2 linked regions of the Homo sapiens genome follow. Each later gene encodes a partner of the first gene's protein in a complex. Each region holds a gene or a part of one and is shown in the gene's direction. Other genes may lie near its edges.

Region 1 (7,335 bases):
TTACATTGGAATATGTATCTGAAGTACTAAGCAGGTGGCTGGCACATAGCAGAGGCTCATTAAATCTGGAGGAGCAAGCTGGCAGCCCGAGGGCTGTATTTGCCCACCCCAACTTTTTTTTTTTTTAAATTTTTTTTTTTTTGAGACGGAGTCTCGCTCGGTTGCCCAGGCTGGAGTGCAGTGGCGCGACCTTGGCTCACTGCAAGCTCTGCCATCCAGGTTCACGCCATTCTCCTGCCTCAGCCTCCCGAGTAGCTGGGACTACAGGCGCCCGCCACCATGCCCGGCTAATTTTTTGTATTTTTTAGTAGAGAAGGGGTTTCACCGGGTTAGCCAGGATGGTCTTGATGTCCTGACCTCGTGATCTGCCTGCCTCGGCCTCCCAAAGTGCTGGGATTACAGGCATGAGCCACTGCGCACGGCCCCCCAACTTTTAAAATGTTGACTTTGAATGTCCATTCTAAACTTTCCATTTTGTGTTGAGCGCCAGGCACTATTTGAAACATGTTTTATCGTTGTAACATAATTATTACCCTTATTTTCCAGATGAGGAAAGTGAAACAAAGAAATATCGATTTGAGTATTTTTTTTTTGTAGCTTAAACCTTCATGCAAGTCCGAAAGGAGTCGTGCCTCTCAACCTCATCCTGTCAGAATCAAAATAAAATACTTTTACAAAGCTAGTGTAGTGGAGTGGACACAGGTGTGGCTCCTGGAGCTAGGTTCAAACCTTGGTTCCATTGCTTACTAGTTAGTTGTGCAACCCTGGAAAAGTTATCTCTGTGCCTTGGTTTCCTTATCTAAACGTGGGGATAATCGTAACACCTGCTTCATTAGGTTGTTGCAAGGATTAGATAAAATGTTTACACCCCTTCTTGGACCACTCCCCATCACTTTCTTTCCCAACCCATCACAAGCAAAGCTTCACGAATCATTTATGTGAGCTGGTATAAACCCACATGCCTTCAGGGAGAAAAGAGGTAGCAGAACTATATAATAAAGTGACTTGTGTTAAACTGTTGAACAGAATGAGTAAAGGAAAATTTGAGGCAGACTGTAAGGAACTGGAGAGTGTAGGATTGTGTAACAGTATGCAAATGAAAACATTATAAAATGCTGTGCTGACTAAATGGATTAAGGTTGGACATAGTTCATTTACTTGCCTGGTCCCTGAGGCATCTGGGCATATTTTGTAGTTTGCATATTCAAGAAGGCCGAAAAGGAGTCAGTTGTACACAAACTCATCTTTTGCTAGGCACAGGGAAGCTCTTTGTAAAGCTGATTACACAGCTGTGTAAAGCTGTGTTCTAAAGCCAGATTACCCTTTCCAAGCTCAGGGTGCAAAAGTGTGGAGTTTCAGCCAAACTTATTCTCCAACTGCATTACATATGGTAAAGAACACTCAGTACAACACCTAGCACATAGATTCAAGAATGTCTCTTTTATGTTTGTGTCTCTCCAATCGACCATAGGCTGTGGAGACAAGGCATTGTGAGGCTCTGTGATTAGGTTTCATGACTTTACCTGTGAATTTAGATGGCTCCAACATCAACTAGACATGACTCCAGATAATTCTATCAGAAATCCATTTTACTTTTTAAAATTTAATTTAATTTAATTTTTGAGACGGAATCTTACTCTGTCGCCCAAGCTGGAGTGCAGTAGCATGATCTCGGCTCACTGGTTTTTCCCAGGTTCATGCGACTCTCCTGCCTCAGCCTCCCTAGTAGCTTGGATTACAGGTGCTCGCCACCATGCCCAACTAATTTTTGTAGTTTTAGTAGAGATGGGCTTTCTCCATGTTGGCCAGGTTGGTCTCAAACTCCTGACCTCAAGTGATCCGCCCGCCTTGGCCTCCCAAAGTGCTGGGATTACAACAGGCGAGAGCCACTGTGCTGTATTTTTGAGATACTGTTTCAGTCTGTCGCTCAGGCTACAGTGCAGTGGTTCAATCATGGCTCACTGCAACCTGGATATCTCGGGCTTAAGTTATCCTCTTACTTCGCCTCACAAGTAGCTGGGACTATAGGTATGCGCCACCATGCACCACGTATTTATTTTTATTTTTAGTAGAGACAAGGTCTCACTATGTTGCCCAGGCTGGTCTTGAACTCCCTGGTCTCAAGGAAGTTGGAAGCCATCCTCCTGCCTCAGCCTCCCAAAGTGCTGGGATTACAGGCCTGATCCACTGTGCCCAGCCTAGAAATTTATTTATTTATTTATTTTTGAGAGAGTCTCACTCTGTCACCCAGGCTGGGGTGCAATGGCACAATCCCAGTTCACTGCAATCTCCACCTCCAGGATCCAATCTATTCTTATGCCTCAGCCTCCTGAGTAGCTGGGATTACAGGCGTACACTGCTACGCCTGGCTAATTTTTGTATTTTAGTAGAGACGGGATTTCACCACGTTGGCCAGGCTGGTCTCCAACTCCTGACCTCAAGTGATCCACCTGCCTCGGCCTCCCAAAGTGCTGGAATTACAGGTGTGAGCCACCATACTCAGCCTAGAAATTCATTTTAGAAAGGCCTTGTTCTTATATAAACTTATATGTAAAGCCAGTGGCTTTTGTTCCTGTGACATGTTCGGATTAATGGACAAGGAGGCATATGGGTGGTTAGCGGGATGGAGGCAGGTCTAAAATTCTGGCACATCAGACCTGTTTGCTGGAATAGAACAGCAAGTGGGAAGGACAGGATGACCACAGCTATTTATCAGGACGGGCACACAGATGGGCATGGTGACACTCGGACAAGGCCCAGGTAGGCCCTAGAGGTCTAAGATGTAGAAACCCTTGTCCAAACAGGGGGTAGAAAAGAGCAAGAAAGAATTCAGGTGGGTGATGCTTGCAAGTATAGAGAGGAAAGCCCCTGGCTGGGGTATCAGGGCTCTTGGCTTCCATGGAGGCAGGCGCTTGGAGATCCAGTCCGGCTACCATGGGGCTTGGCTATATTCAATCTGCATTCCCCCCCCAAGCAAGCTTATAATGGAATCACTATGGAAACAGTATTCATGTACCAGAAGTCTATTTTTCACTTAAATTTTGTTTGAATGCTTTTTGTTTTTGAGTGCTTTGAACCCTTGAGGTGAGGCATTTCTGATTTTACAGCTCTGCCTGAATTCAGATCCTCAACCCCACTGAATTAGGGGAACCCAGAAAAGTACCCCATCACGAGTTCAATCAGAAAATATCACAAGCTTTCTAACATAATAATTTATGAAGTTATTCTACTCACTTGAACTACTTTCTCAAATAGGAAAAAATAAAGCTGAGCTGCCAGGCATGAAGAACAGGGTGCAAATATGAATTTTATAAAAGGAGAAAGAGGAACTACCCATGCCAGTAGCCAGCACTGCCTAAGGATTTCTCACAGGGCATTTTTCTTGCTTGCGGGCTTCCTGTCTCTGGTAATATCATCATCACTGCTGGCTTGAGATCCTCCCTATTTTGCAGCTCAATGTGCAGATATTTAGAAGCCTATTATAAATTTATCGCCAACAGGCCAACAGGTTTCGCTCCTCTCCTTCCCCCATTACTTATCTTTCTTCTTAATTCAAAGAGTTAAACATGTGTAATTTGTTCTTTGCCTCTTCATTTTTGTTTAATTATTTTGTCTTTTTCTAAGTTGTGTTTGACTCCGGTGATTCATCCAATATACGTAAAAAGAAACAAACCAAGTGCTTGGGACGCATACCCGGGTTATCTTAACTGTGCAGAGCAGGTTTCCTCCCACTCCGCCCGTAGTTACCCAGATCATCGCCTCCGTTTTCTGTTTAGGCAGCGGGGGCTCGCCGTCCCCTCGCCCGCGGTGGGTGTCGCAGCTGGTCCCCTCCAGGGTTCTCCCAGATCGCCGCCGCCACCCCCGCGCCTCCCCGCCGCACCCCTTCCTACGCGGGGGTCTCTGGGTCCCCGGCTCTAGGACCGCAGGGACGCGGGCAGGAGGTGGCGCCCGCCTTCGGTCCTGCCCTCTGCCGCGCGCGGGGTGGGGACGGACCGGAGTTCCCCGGCTCGCGCACAAGGGCCGCGGAGGGGTTGCCGAGGGGTGGGCGGGGCTGCGCCGCCTGGCCGCGCCGCTGCCTGGCAGGCCGGGCATTAGGGCCTCGGCGGAGCCCGCTCCCCTGTGCGCTGGGCGGGGTGGGCGGAGGGCGGCTTCGCGTGCAGGCGCGGGCCCGGAGGCAGCGGCTGCGCCCTGCGCCGGGGCGGAGCCGGGGGCGGGCCGGCGGCCGGCAGGCGGGGGCTGGGGCCCGAGGCCGGGAGTGCCTGAGCGCCGGCGGCGACGACGGCAGCGGCGGCCCAGCGGGCTCGGTGGTTGGGTCCGCGGCGGCTCGGGGTCCGCCCGCGGGCTGCGGTGCGAGCGGGCGGCCCGGCTCCCCTCCTCCCCCGCCCGCCGCCGCCGCTGTGATTGGGTGGAAGATGGCGCTGGCCGGATGGAAATCCTAATGACAGTCTCCAAATTCGCCTCCATCTGTACCATGGTAGGTGGCGGCGAGCGGGCGGCCGGGGCTGCCGGGACCTCTCGGGCGGGCGGGCGGCGCTGGACCCGCCTCTCCCAGTGGCCGCTCGCGGGGCCTAGCGCCGGGGCGGGCGGGCGGGCTGGGCGGCCCGGGCGGCCCGGGCGGGGGCGGTTGGACGGCGCGCAGGCGGGGAGCGCGGGGGTGAGCGGCCCAGGCGGCTGGGGAGGGGGCGCCGCCTGGTGGGCCAGGGCGGCGCGAGGGTAGCGGTGAGTGGGCGACCGTGCCAGACGCGGCGTCGGGCGGGCACCGGCCTCCGGGAGTCCCCGGCTGAACTGCTGGGGTCCGCTCGGGACGCGGGGACGAGGGCCGAGGCGCGCCCGGCCTGTGCCGGGGTGAGGGGTGGGCGCGCGCGAGCCAGAGCGCGGCCCCGGGCCGGGGTCGTCGGGGAGGGGGCGCGGAGCCGCGCGGGCTCCATTTCCTTCTGGTCGCGCGCCGAGCGGGAGGGGTCCCCGGGAGGGGTGGGGGTCGGCGGGCAGGAAGGAAGGGTCTCGGCCGGGGCGGGCAGCGCTCATTCCCGCCTGGGAGAGGACGGAAGTCAAGTGCAGATTTCCTCGCGCCGCTGGCTGGGCCGAGTCCCCGACCCCGCGCTGGGGGAAAGGGGCGTGTGTGAAGGTGGAAACTTTAAATAAGTACTGTTGAAATTCTCTCCATTTTCTCCTCTGAGAGGCACGAGCTCTCCCGTTTCCAGCCGTGTGTCCAGGTGGCAGTCTTGTCTCTGGGAATGCACGTTAATCTTGAAAAGCAGCATTAGCTTTCCTGTCATTTGTTTACTTCAGCCCACCAGACACATCTGTATGTGGCTGGAGCTAGGTCTGTCTGTGCGGGGACCGCCTGCCAAGGCGATGGTATTTGTTTTCCTAGGGCGTTTAAATAGACTGTAAGGGAAAAGTGCTAATGCCCGCTGGAAGTCCCGAATTAAGCAAAACGTGGGCGCGTTTAAAACTTGGTGTTTTGTGCGTGGCCAGAAGGACCACAGTTTTCCACATGATGAGACAAATTCGTTTCATTAGTTCCTCATGAGCTTATATGTAGGGATCATAATTTATGAGTCATCACCGAAAAAAGTTGTTCTTTGCAACGTGGGCCTAGTGGTTGTTATTAGAGACTTCTGAAATCTTGTGTTTCATGCCTCACTGGCCCTATTTATGCAACTGATTTCATATAGGAGATCCCCAAGAAATTTTCCATCTAAGGGTGGTACATTGTATATATTTTTCTTTAAGGAGTGGTGAATCAGATCTGAAAGATGCCTTAAAAAGCAGATTCTCTACTACACGCTGAGGAACAGTACAAAAAATGACTGAAATCAGGTGGACATAAAATCGACAGTATTAAAGAAATCATATTGAAGGATGAATCATTGAAGACTCCATTTCCCAACTGGATGATTGTTCTTTCTCACAGTTTACATTTTAGGAAAGCATTTGTATTAAATGGACTATATTAAAATGATTTTGGAGAATTGTTTGGGCTAATTATTTTTAGATACGCCAATTATTATCTTAGTCAATTTCAAAAGGAATGCGATAATTAGGTCTTTTACAGTGACAATTTTGCCACATGGCTGAGCTACACACATTGTATGGGTCATAGTTCATTGTCAAAGACTAGATTTCAGGAGTGGTGTGATACTCTTTACCGACTGTTCATTCACTCAAGTACTGTATATCAAGTATACACTTAGCAGCCACTAAGTGCTAGAGGCGACGCTGAGTACTGGGGATGCAGTATTGGTCAGGGCAGCCCCTGTTTTCTTGGTGTTTACATTCTTGCTCATGGACACAAACAGTATTCAGGTAAACAATAAATGTATGCTGTAATCAGATTAGGACAGTGAGACACAGGGATTTGCCAGGGTCACACACTTAGTAAGTGGGATTCTGATCCCAAGGATGTCAAATCAGAAGCTCTTTCTAGGGCTTCCATCCAGATACATTAATTACATGTGGGGCGTGTGTATTGTTGGCAAATACAGAAAATGCCTGGCCAAATGAGATCGTTCCAAAGGTACTATTAAAATTGGGTGTGTCTGTATTCATATTTGAATACATTCGAATGTACCCCCAAATAGTGCTGAATATCTCAAAGTAATTTGCAGTCTTATTCTTTAAAGAAAATTGCCATTTGTCCTCTGAGAATCACAAAATTGAAAAGCAAAGATACCTCTTTGGCTTTGTAGGTGCTGTTTTGCTAGGCTTGGAACGCTCCTCCCTGCCACACCCCGTATCCTTCTTGTCTGGCGAGTGTGTGTGCCTGTCTCTTAAGCAGGGAGCCTTACTTGAATAATCCTACCCCTGTCCAACCCGACCCTCCATCCCCTTCATACAGTTTCATGGCATTTTTGTAATCTCAGTAGCACTTATCATACTTACTGTGCAGTAAATTTTTCTTTGAACTCTTACTCAATTGTGAGGGCCTTGAAGGGGAAGGATTATCATTTACTTCTGCAGTTTGATCTGGAGTACCAAGTTCTGCATTCAGTATAAAAGTTTTCCAAAGTCCTTCCTGCCTCCTCCTGGTATGCCGGGTGAAGCAGGGATGATGTGGCTGTGTGTGTGTGGAATGGTGGAGAGAAGATGGGCTGGACTTAAACAGAACACTTCTCAGAATCAGCAGCTGTGAAAACATTTAGGATGAGTTGAAATTTTATTCTATAAGTACTGAAGTGTACATAATTTTTTCATTTGTCAAAATAACGTACCTGGGCAAATCTGCAATACCTTAATTGGGTTAAGTAACTGTTAAAAACAATTCTCTTCAGCTGTGTCTTATTTTAGATCACTAGTGTTGTGCTTACATGTGAAAATTAGTAAAACTTGTTT
Region 2 (7,998 bases), on another chromosome or scaffold:
AGGCCTCAAACTCCTGGGCTTAAGCAATCCTCATATATCAGCCTTCCAAGTAGCTGGGACTACAGGCATGTACCACCATGCCTGGCAATTAACTGATTTTTAACAAAGGCCCTATAACATATTGGGAAAAGAACAGCCTGTTCAATAAATGGTGCTGGGAAAACTGACCCCCTATATGAAAAGGAAAGAAACTAGACTCCCTACGTCTCACCCTATACAAAAATCAACACGAAATGGATTAAAAACCTAAATATAAAACCCAAAACTATGAAACTACTAAAAGATAATACAGGAGAAATGCTTCAGGACATTGGCCTGGGCAAAGATTTTATGGATAAGCCCTCAAAAGCACAGGCAACAAAACCAAATATAGACAAATTGGATTACATCAAACTAAAAAGCTTCTGCACAGAAAAGGAAACAATCAATAGAGGAATGAGACAGCCTACAGAATGAGAGAAAATATTTGCAAAGTATTCATCCAACAAGGAATTAATATCCAGGAAGTATAAAAAACTCAAACAACTCAATAGCAAAAAAAACCCAAATAATTTTTAAATGGGCAAATGATCTGAATACACATTTTTCAAAAGAAGACATATAAATAGCCAACAAATACATGAAAAAAATGCTCAACATCACTAATCATCAGGGAAATACAAATCAAAACCACAGTGAGATATTATCTCACTCCAGTTAGAATCGCTATACGAAAAAGACAAAAACAAATGCAGAGGGTGAGGATGCAGAGAAAAGGGAATTCATACACTGTTGATAGGAATGTAAATTAGTTCAACCATTATGGAAAACAGTGTGTAGATTTCTCAAAGAACTAAAACTACAACTACCATATGATCCAGCAATCCCACTACTACCCAAAGAACAGGAAATCAGTATGTCAAAGAGATACCTGTCCTCCCACAGTTACTGCAGCACTATTCACAGTGGCCAAGATACGGAGTTAACCTAAGTGTCCATCAAAAGAAGAATGGATAAAGAAAATGTGGTACATATATGCAATGAAATACTATTCAATCATAAAAAAGAATAAAATTATGTCATTTGCAGCAACATGGATAGCACCGGAGGTCATTATCTTAAGTGAAATAAGCCAGGCACAGAAAGATAAATACTGCATGTTCTCACCAATATGTGAAAGAGAAATAAGTTGATCTCAGAGAAGTAGAGAACAGAATAGTGGTAACTAGTGGCTGAGAAGGGTAAAGGAGAGGATTATATATAGAGAGGTTGGTTAACACATATAAAATTACAGCTAGGTAGAAGGAATAATTTTTGGTGTTCTATATCACTGTAGGATGACTATGATTAACAATAATTTATTCCATATTTTCAAATAGCTAAAAGAGTGGATATTGAATTTTCCCAAAGCAATTATTACAGATTGTATACAGGTATCAAAATATCACACTGTACCCCATATATATGTACAATTATTATGTGTCAATTAAAAAATACATCCACAAATTTATTGATACTTCATAAAAAAAGGAGTCATCTAATCCCCTCTCCTTAGACACTGATGGCCTTAGTAACTAAGTTCTAATGAATTGACTATGGCTTAAAGTGACACTGCATGACTTCCACTGTGAGTTTAGAAAAAGCATTATAGCTTTCAACCAGATTTTTCTTCTTCGGGATGCTCATCCTTGGAACCCAGTTAGCATATTGTGAGGAACCAAATAGTGCTGTGGAAAGATCATGAGAAGGTGTTCTAGCCACAGCTTTGGCTAAGGACTAGGCCAACACCAGTATCAGTCACCAGACATGTGAGAGAAGGGGTCTTCAGATGATTCCAGCCCCAATCTTTTAGCTGCCCCAGCTGATGTGAAGTGGATAGTGGAACAGAGACAATCTGTTCCCATGAAGCTCTGCATAAATTACAGATTTGTAAGTAAAGTAAGGGTTGTAATTGTTTTAAACCATTGCATTTTGCAGATGGTTAAACAGCAATAGATAAAAGGAACAGGAAAAAAGAGTGCTGAATATTGGACAGTAGTTCAGAGCATATACTGCATCCTACAGGACAGTATCAAAAAGGGTTATCTCCCAGAAGGCACCATAGCTAAGTCTTCAATATATCTTCAATAAGACAAGATACTTCTCAGTGATTGAGTACACAATTAGACCAATAAATTCCATGGGCAATAGCCCATTGCATTACTTCTTTCATTGCAGAGTGAATTTCTTGGTCAAAAGCAATATAGTGTTAGAGAAAATGATAGTGTCTAAAGCACTGAGTAATTCCCTAGATGGTGGTGTCAGCGGAAGTACAGTGAGCAGGGAAAGCAAATCTCAATCTAGAATAAACATATTTTAGAGAGGACAAATAAGAACTCCCTCAATGATGGGGAGGGCCAATGACCAATGGAATAGACTTGCCTACATGTGACTGGCTGACCCTCCCAGAGCATGGGGTATTGGTCACTGCTTCTGAACACCCAGCGGTGGCTTGGTGATCCCATGCATAGCTCCAATCCTGTTGCCATTGCCATTGCCATTTATTTCATGATTCTACTGAGCAGGCAGTGAGGCTGAGTTTCATCACAAAGCAGTTCATTTCATCCATATGATTCTTAAGATTTATTCTGAGAGGTCCATCACTATATCCCTTCTGGAGTCTTCCTTGTCACTAGTTCTCCAGTCTTGCTCTTTCCATGTCCTTCACAAACTGGCCAAAAAATTATCCTCTGACCCTGAATTGACCATTTCTCCTTTCAGCCAAACTGAACATCAAAACATACTGGTGAAAATTCTGCCCACTGAAAGAACTTCACTATTTCAATATTTTTCAGGTCCAAAGCAGGACTACAACATATCAATTTCTAGCAAGTACCAGTATATTGTCCAGAGCAACATACCTGTATTGTATTTTGCACATCATAGGTGCTCAATAGACACTTAAGCAATTTTTAAAATACAGACATATTATTTCCCTACCTGTATTTCAACAGCTTCCCATTGGTCTAAAAGATCCTGCTGGGTATGGCCTCTGCATACTCCTTTCACTTCTCTGTACTCTAAGCCTTGACTCTCAGTTCCTGTAATGTTCCATGCTCTCTCCTGCTACAAGACCTTTGCTCAGACTGTTCCCTCTCCTTGCCTAGTTAACTCTTGACTCAAGATACTTCCTGTCTTACAATCATCTTTCTTCATAGTACTTATCTCTGTATTAATTCCTGTCTCATCCTGGGACTCTAAGTTCTATGACTATGTGCACTCACCACTGATTCCCCAACACCTAATATAGTGCCTGGCATATATGATATGCTAAATAATATTTTGTTAAATGAATGAATACATGAATCAGTGAATGAATAAGCCTGTAATGATGCAGTAATTTACCTATAAGTTATCACTGCCAGTTTTGCTTAAGAAGCTTTCTGCCATCACAATTTTTACTCATCTAATTCACATTTCTTTATTAATTTAAGAAGTATTTGTCAAGACAACTTTTCTAAGCATTACTTATATACTAGCACTATGCAACAGAAATTTGTGACCACATATGTAATTTTAAATATTCTAATATCCATGACAAAATTAATAAATTTTATTTAGCCTAATATACCCCCAAACATCATTTCAACATGAAATCAATACAAAAAATTATTAATGAGATATTTTACATTCTTTTCTTCAAACTAGTCTTTGAAATTTGGGGGTAGTTTACAATTACATATCTCAACTGGAACTAGCTATATTTCAAGTGCTCAAGAGCCACAAATGACTAGCAGATACATCATATGCTATATCCCACAGTGTAGTTCTATAGGATTCACTTTCACTAGAGAGGGTCTGATCACCCTCAGCTCTTATAATTAGTGGTCAGGAAAACCACCTTAAGTCAAACCTAACTGTTCCAGTATAAGAGATGATTTAAACTAGAATTGTCTCTGGGAACAATTTTAGCTGGTGTACCGTTTTCGCCTTCCTATAACATCTTTTTGTCTTGTTTTTTTTTTTTAAACTTTTAAGTTCAGGGGTACAAGTGCAGGTTTGTTATATAGGTAAACTTGTGTCACGGGTGTTTGTTGTACAGGCTATTTTGTCACCCAGGTATTAAGCCTAGTACCCATTAGTTATTTTTCCTGATCCTCGCCCTCCTCCCACCCTCCACCCTCCGAAAGGCCCCAGTGTGTGTTGTCCCCCTCTTTTGTGTCCATGTGTTCTCATCATTTAGCTCCCACTTATAAGTGAGAACGTGCGGTATTTGGTTTTCTGTTCCTTTGTTAGTTTGCTTAAGGATAAGGGCCTCCAGCTCCATCATGTCCCTACAAAGGACATGATCTCGTTCTTTTATGGCCCCACTTTTTATCCTTTTAATTTAAACGGATTCTTTGCTCCCCCTGAAGATGGAGGCCACCTCCTTTGCAAGGACTTCTATCTCTCCCCCTTTGAGGCCACGACATAATTCTCCGCATTTTTAGGTACTTAACAGTAAATCACTTGGTTCACTTGGTTCTCCTGCCTGCCTAGGAAAGGTCAGGAGATGGTCCAGCGCCATGTCTAGCACTGTTAATTCTTTCAGTGCTTTCGTTTTGCTTGGGCCTCTCGGGGAGGGCGCGGAAAAGAGCGCAAGCCAGGGTCTAGGACCACACAAGTGAATTCGTGTTGCTCCCTCAGCCCTGAAAAGTGGCTCTCTCCCCATCAGCATTATACTTGCACAGTGGTTTTGTTTTTAGGTGCATCTACCTCATCACATGGCTACCGGCCACACAGCAACTAACAGCACCGAGGAAACACAACAGCCTGTTTACCTTCAGCCCCGCCACTAACCCTTGGCCAAAGGGAAAGGGGCAGGACATCCTCCCGCTCTGAGCCACCTCCGGAAGTGACGTCGGAGTGTCAACATGCAAGATGGCGGCCCATCACCGGCAGAACACAGCAGGGCGGAGGAAAGTGCAGGTATGGAAGCCCGGTTCCTCGGTCTTCCGGACGCGGCCGGCAGCTCCGGGCCCACTCCAGCTAGAAGGTGCCCGGCGCCACGACCAGCTGGGGTAGCGGCATGGGGCGAACGGGGCGGGGCGCGGCCGGCCACGAGGGGTGGGGCCGCGGCGCTAACGGCTTGAGGAAGGGGCGGGGGTCGGCTTGCTTGGCCCTTGGGGCCCAGGCCCGGGACCCTCGTGGGCGGCATTCTGAGCCCGGGATTGCTTGTCGCCGCTCTTCTGTAGGAGTGGACTTGCGGGGTCGGGATAGGCTCGTTCCCCGCCCACTTGCCTCCCCCTTGCCCTGTCTTTCTTCGAAGCGCTCTGCCCTCGCTGCGTCGGAGCCGAGGCCTCCAGGGGTTTCCCAGGGGGGTGGGCGTTGGAGGAGTGAGCGGCTTGTGCGGGGGCGTGGCGAGGCGGCGGAGCGCCAACGGCCCTGCGGGGTTTCTGCTGAGGATTCCGCACTTGGGAGCCCCCAGCCCTCTCTTATGTGGGAGCTGTCCCCTGGGTAGGTTTAAGTGACATAAGAATGTGCGTGGGGAAATTATAATTTTAATTGTTTTGGTATTTAAGTTCCTCTTCACCATTTCTTCATCTTAAGTGTGCATCGCTGAATCTGTCTTTATTGTTTGTGTAATTTATTGTCCATGTGGTAAAGAGTTGTCTAATCTTACCGTGTGTGTCTTGTGCCTTATGCCTTTGTGAATTCACTTTTGTTTGCGGTTACGCTTAAGAGTTACTGCCACTTCGGGGAACATCACACACCGGGGCCTGTCGGGGGCTGGGGGCGCTAGGGGAGGGATAGCATTAGGAGAAATACCTAATGTAAATGACGAGTTGATGGGTACAGCAAACCAGCATGGCACACGTATACCTATGTAACAAACCTGCACGTTGTGCACATATATCCTAGAACTTAAAGTATAATAATAATATTAAAAAATAGTTATTGCCACTTAATATTTTCAGTGATGCAGGGAATAAAAGCCCTCTTACAGGTGTTTGCCTGCAGGTATATTGTATGTGGTAGTGGCAGTTTGGTGCATTTATTCATTAAACATTTACCTAGCACTTAGGGTGGCCCCCAAAGGGGAAAAGGGATTGAAAGGGTGTAGAAATAATTAACACCTAGGCTTTCTTTATAAAACACAGCATTATATGGAGTTCTGCGGGTTGAAATCAAGTGTCAGATAAAGGTAGTTAGATGAAGGGGTCCTTCAGTAAGGTAATCCCAGCAGAAGGTGGTAGGCCATAAAGTCTTCTGATTAGTTCACATCTTGGTTTTATTGATCTCACTGATCAGTACAGTGTCTTAAGCACTCACTGGATGTTTGTTGAAATGAGTGAAATTAATAAGTCTAAACTCACCCTATTAGGTGTTTTTCAGTGCATTAGTGATAGGATTTAAGTATCACCAGCATCCAAGGCAGGTAGTGAGAATGTCTCCTTGGGACTGAAATATAACTCAAAAAGTAACCCGATTGTATTATAGACTCTATGGTGGTGTACATCTTAGGAGAGTAAGGGTAGTTAATCAGGCCTTTCAGTTTATTGCATTAAGACTTAAAACTCCTATTACTGCAGTGTGTTCCCTGCTTGCTTCCTTCCCAGGCCTGCCCACTCCCAAAATGCATGCAATAAAGTATATATATTTTAAAAAGACTTACAAGGCAATTGTACTAGTATGGGATGGAGAAAATGTAAATTAACTGCAGCAGGTTTGGAAAAACAGTGTTCCAATAGGCTGAATGTGAGCCAGTGCACGTAGAATGAGGCAGGTGATAGATAATTCCACTTTTCACTGGTCAAAGTACAAAATTAGAGTTTGGTGTTCAGCACTTAGGACCTTGTTCTTCATAGGTAGCAATCAGATTGGTGAACTGACTTGAAATTATTTCCTATGAAGAACTTTTGAAAGAGCTGTCTTAGATTAACCTGCTGAAGAGAAGATTCAGGGAACTTTCGGAATTTGTCCCTAAGGTATAGAAGCAGCCTGAGAAGCCACAGGGATTGATTTCATCTGAACCATCATTGTCTATGAGGTGTTTTTTAAACTAATGCGTGTTCATTGTAAAAATCCCAACAAACAAAAACATAAATTAGAGTTGCCCTCCATGCTTCCAAGAAAGCTACTGCGGGCAATGTCATGTTTTAATCCTAGACCAGAGTTTATCAACCTGAACATTCTTGAAATTTCATCTGGATAATTCTTCGCTGTGTCTGAGGGAGGGAGCTGTCCTATGCATCACAGGTTCTTTGGCATCATCCCTGGCTTCTACCAACTAGATGTAGTAGCATCTCCCCAGTTGTGACAACTAAAAATGTCTCCAGACATTTTCAAATGTCCCCTCAAGGGCAAAATTGCCGCTGGTTGAGAACCGCTGTTCTATACCTCTTGCTGTTTGTGTACCTGACTTAACATATTTTTTTGCTATAAATGGAGCCATAGTATTCACTGTTTTGTGTCTTGCTTTGTCAAATTTTTAAATAAACATTCCCTTTAGCCCAGAATTCCTTATCTAAAAATATATTCTACAAAATTGCATATGCATGTATCTGTCCCTACTTATGCAAGGGTGTTGTGTGAAGCCATTCTTGAATTGCTATAAAGAAATACCTGAGACTGGCTCATTTATAAAGAAAAGAGGCATAATTGGCTCATAGTTCTGCAGGCTTTACAGGAAATATGGTGCTAGGATCTGCTCGTCTTCCAGGGAGGCCTCAAAGAGAGAGAGAGTCAAAAAAGCAAGTCAACATGGCATATTCCCATTTCCACAAAGGAAATATGCATTTTAAAAGTCAGGAAGGGTAATAGCAGTGATTATCCCTTTGGGAATAGATTGTGTGATTATAGATAAGACAGGACATGGGATATCTTTTAGTTTGAAATATGCACAACTTTGTATTTTTGAACTTTTTACCACATTATTTGCTCTTATACATCAAAAAGAAAACTTCTCATCTTGGAAAAAGCATACATGGGTACTTGGAGTAAATATACTTTGTCTCCTGACTGTCTCAGACCACGAGACAGTAGCCCTGAGCTCCTTGT

Evidence for each region.
Region 2: the proteins of USP12 (region 1) and WDR48 are in contact, whole or in part, in a crystal structure (PDB 5K1C), measured with the Homo sapiens proteins. Residues at the interface, in NP_872294.2 of Homo sapiens: Arg185, Leu187, Thr188, Cys189, Glu190, Thr191, Ser227, Lys230, Cys236, Arg237, Ser238, Lys239, Gln240, Glu241, His243; in NP_065890.1 of Homo sapiens: Arg50, Trp77, Asp118, Tyr119, Lys121, Leu137, Ser170, Tyr172, Thr188, Asp211, Asn212, Lys214, Ser230, Gly254, Trp256, Arg272, Ile363, Ile364, Leu424, Lys425.

The regions. Positions count from the first base shown.
Region 1 is NC_000013.11:27,168,731-27,176,065, reverse strand, and holds the start of USP12 (ubiquitin carboxyl-terminal hydrolase 12), read left to right. Parts: upstream 1-4,254; 5' UTR 4,255-4,426; coding exon 4,427-4,474; intron 4,475-6,930; exon of another isoform or gene 6,931-7,129; intron 7,130-7,335. UniProt on the Homo sapiens protein: Deubiquitinating enzyme that plays various roles in the regulation of the immune response and inflammation.
Region 2 is NC_000003.12:39,047,148-39,055,145, forward strand, and holds the start of WDR48 (WD repeat-containing protein 48), read left to right. Parts: upstream 1-4,868; 5' UTR 4,869-4,878; coding exon 4,879-4,926; intron 4,927-5,144; exon of another isoform or gene 5,145-5,454; intron 5,455-7,998. UniProt on the Homo sapiens protein: Regulator of deubiquitinating complexes, which acts as a strong activator of USP1, USP12 and USP46. Enhances the USP1-mediated deubiquitination of FANCD2; USP1 being almost inactive by itself.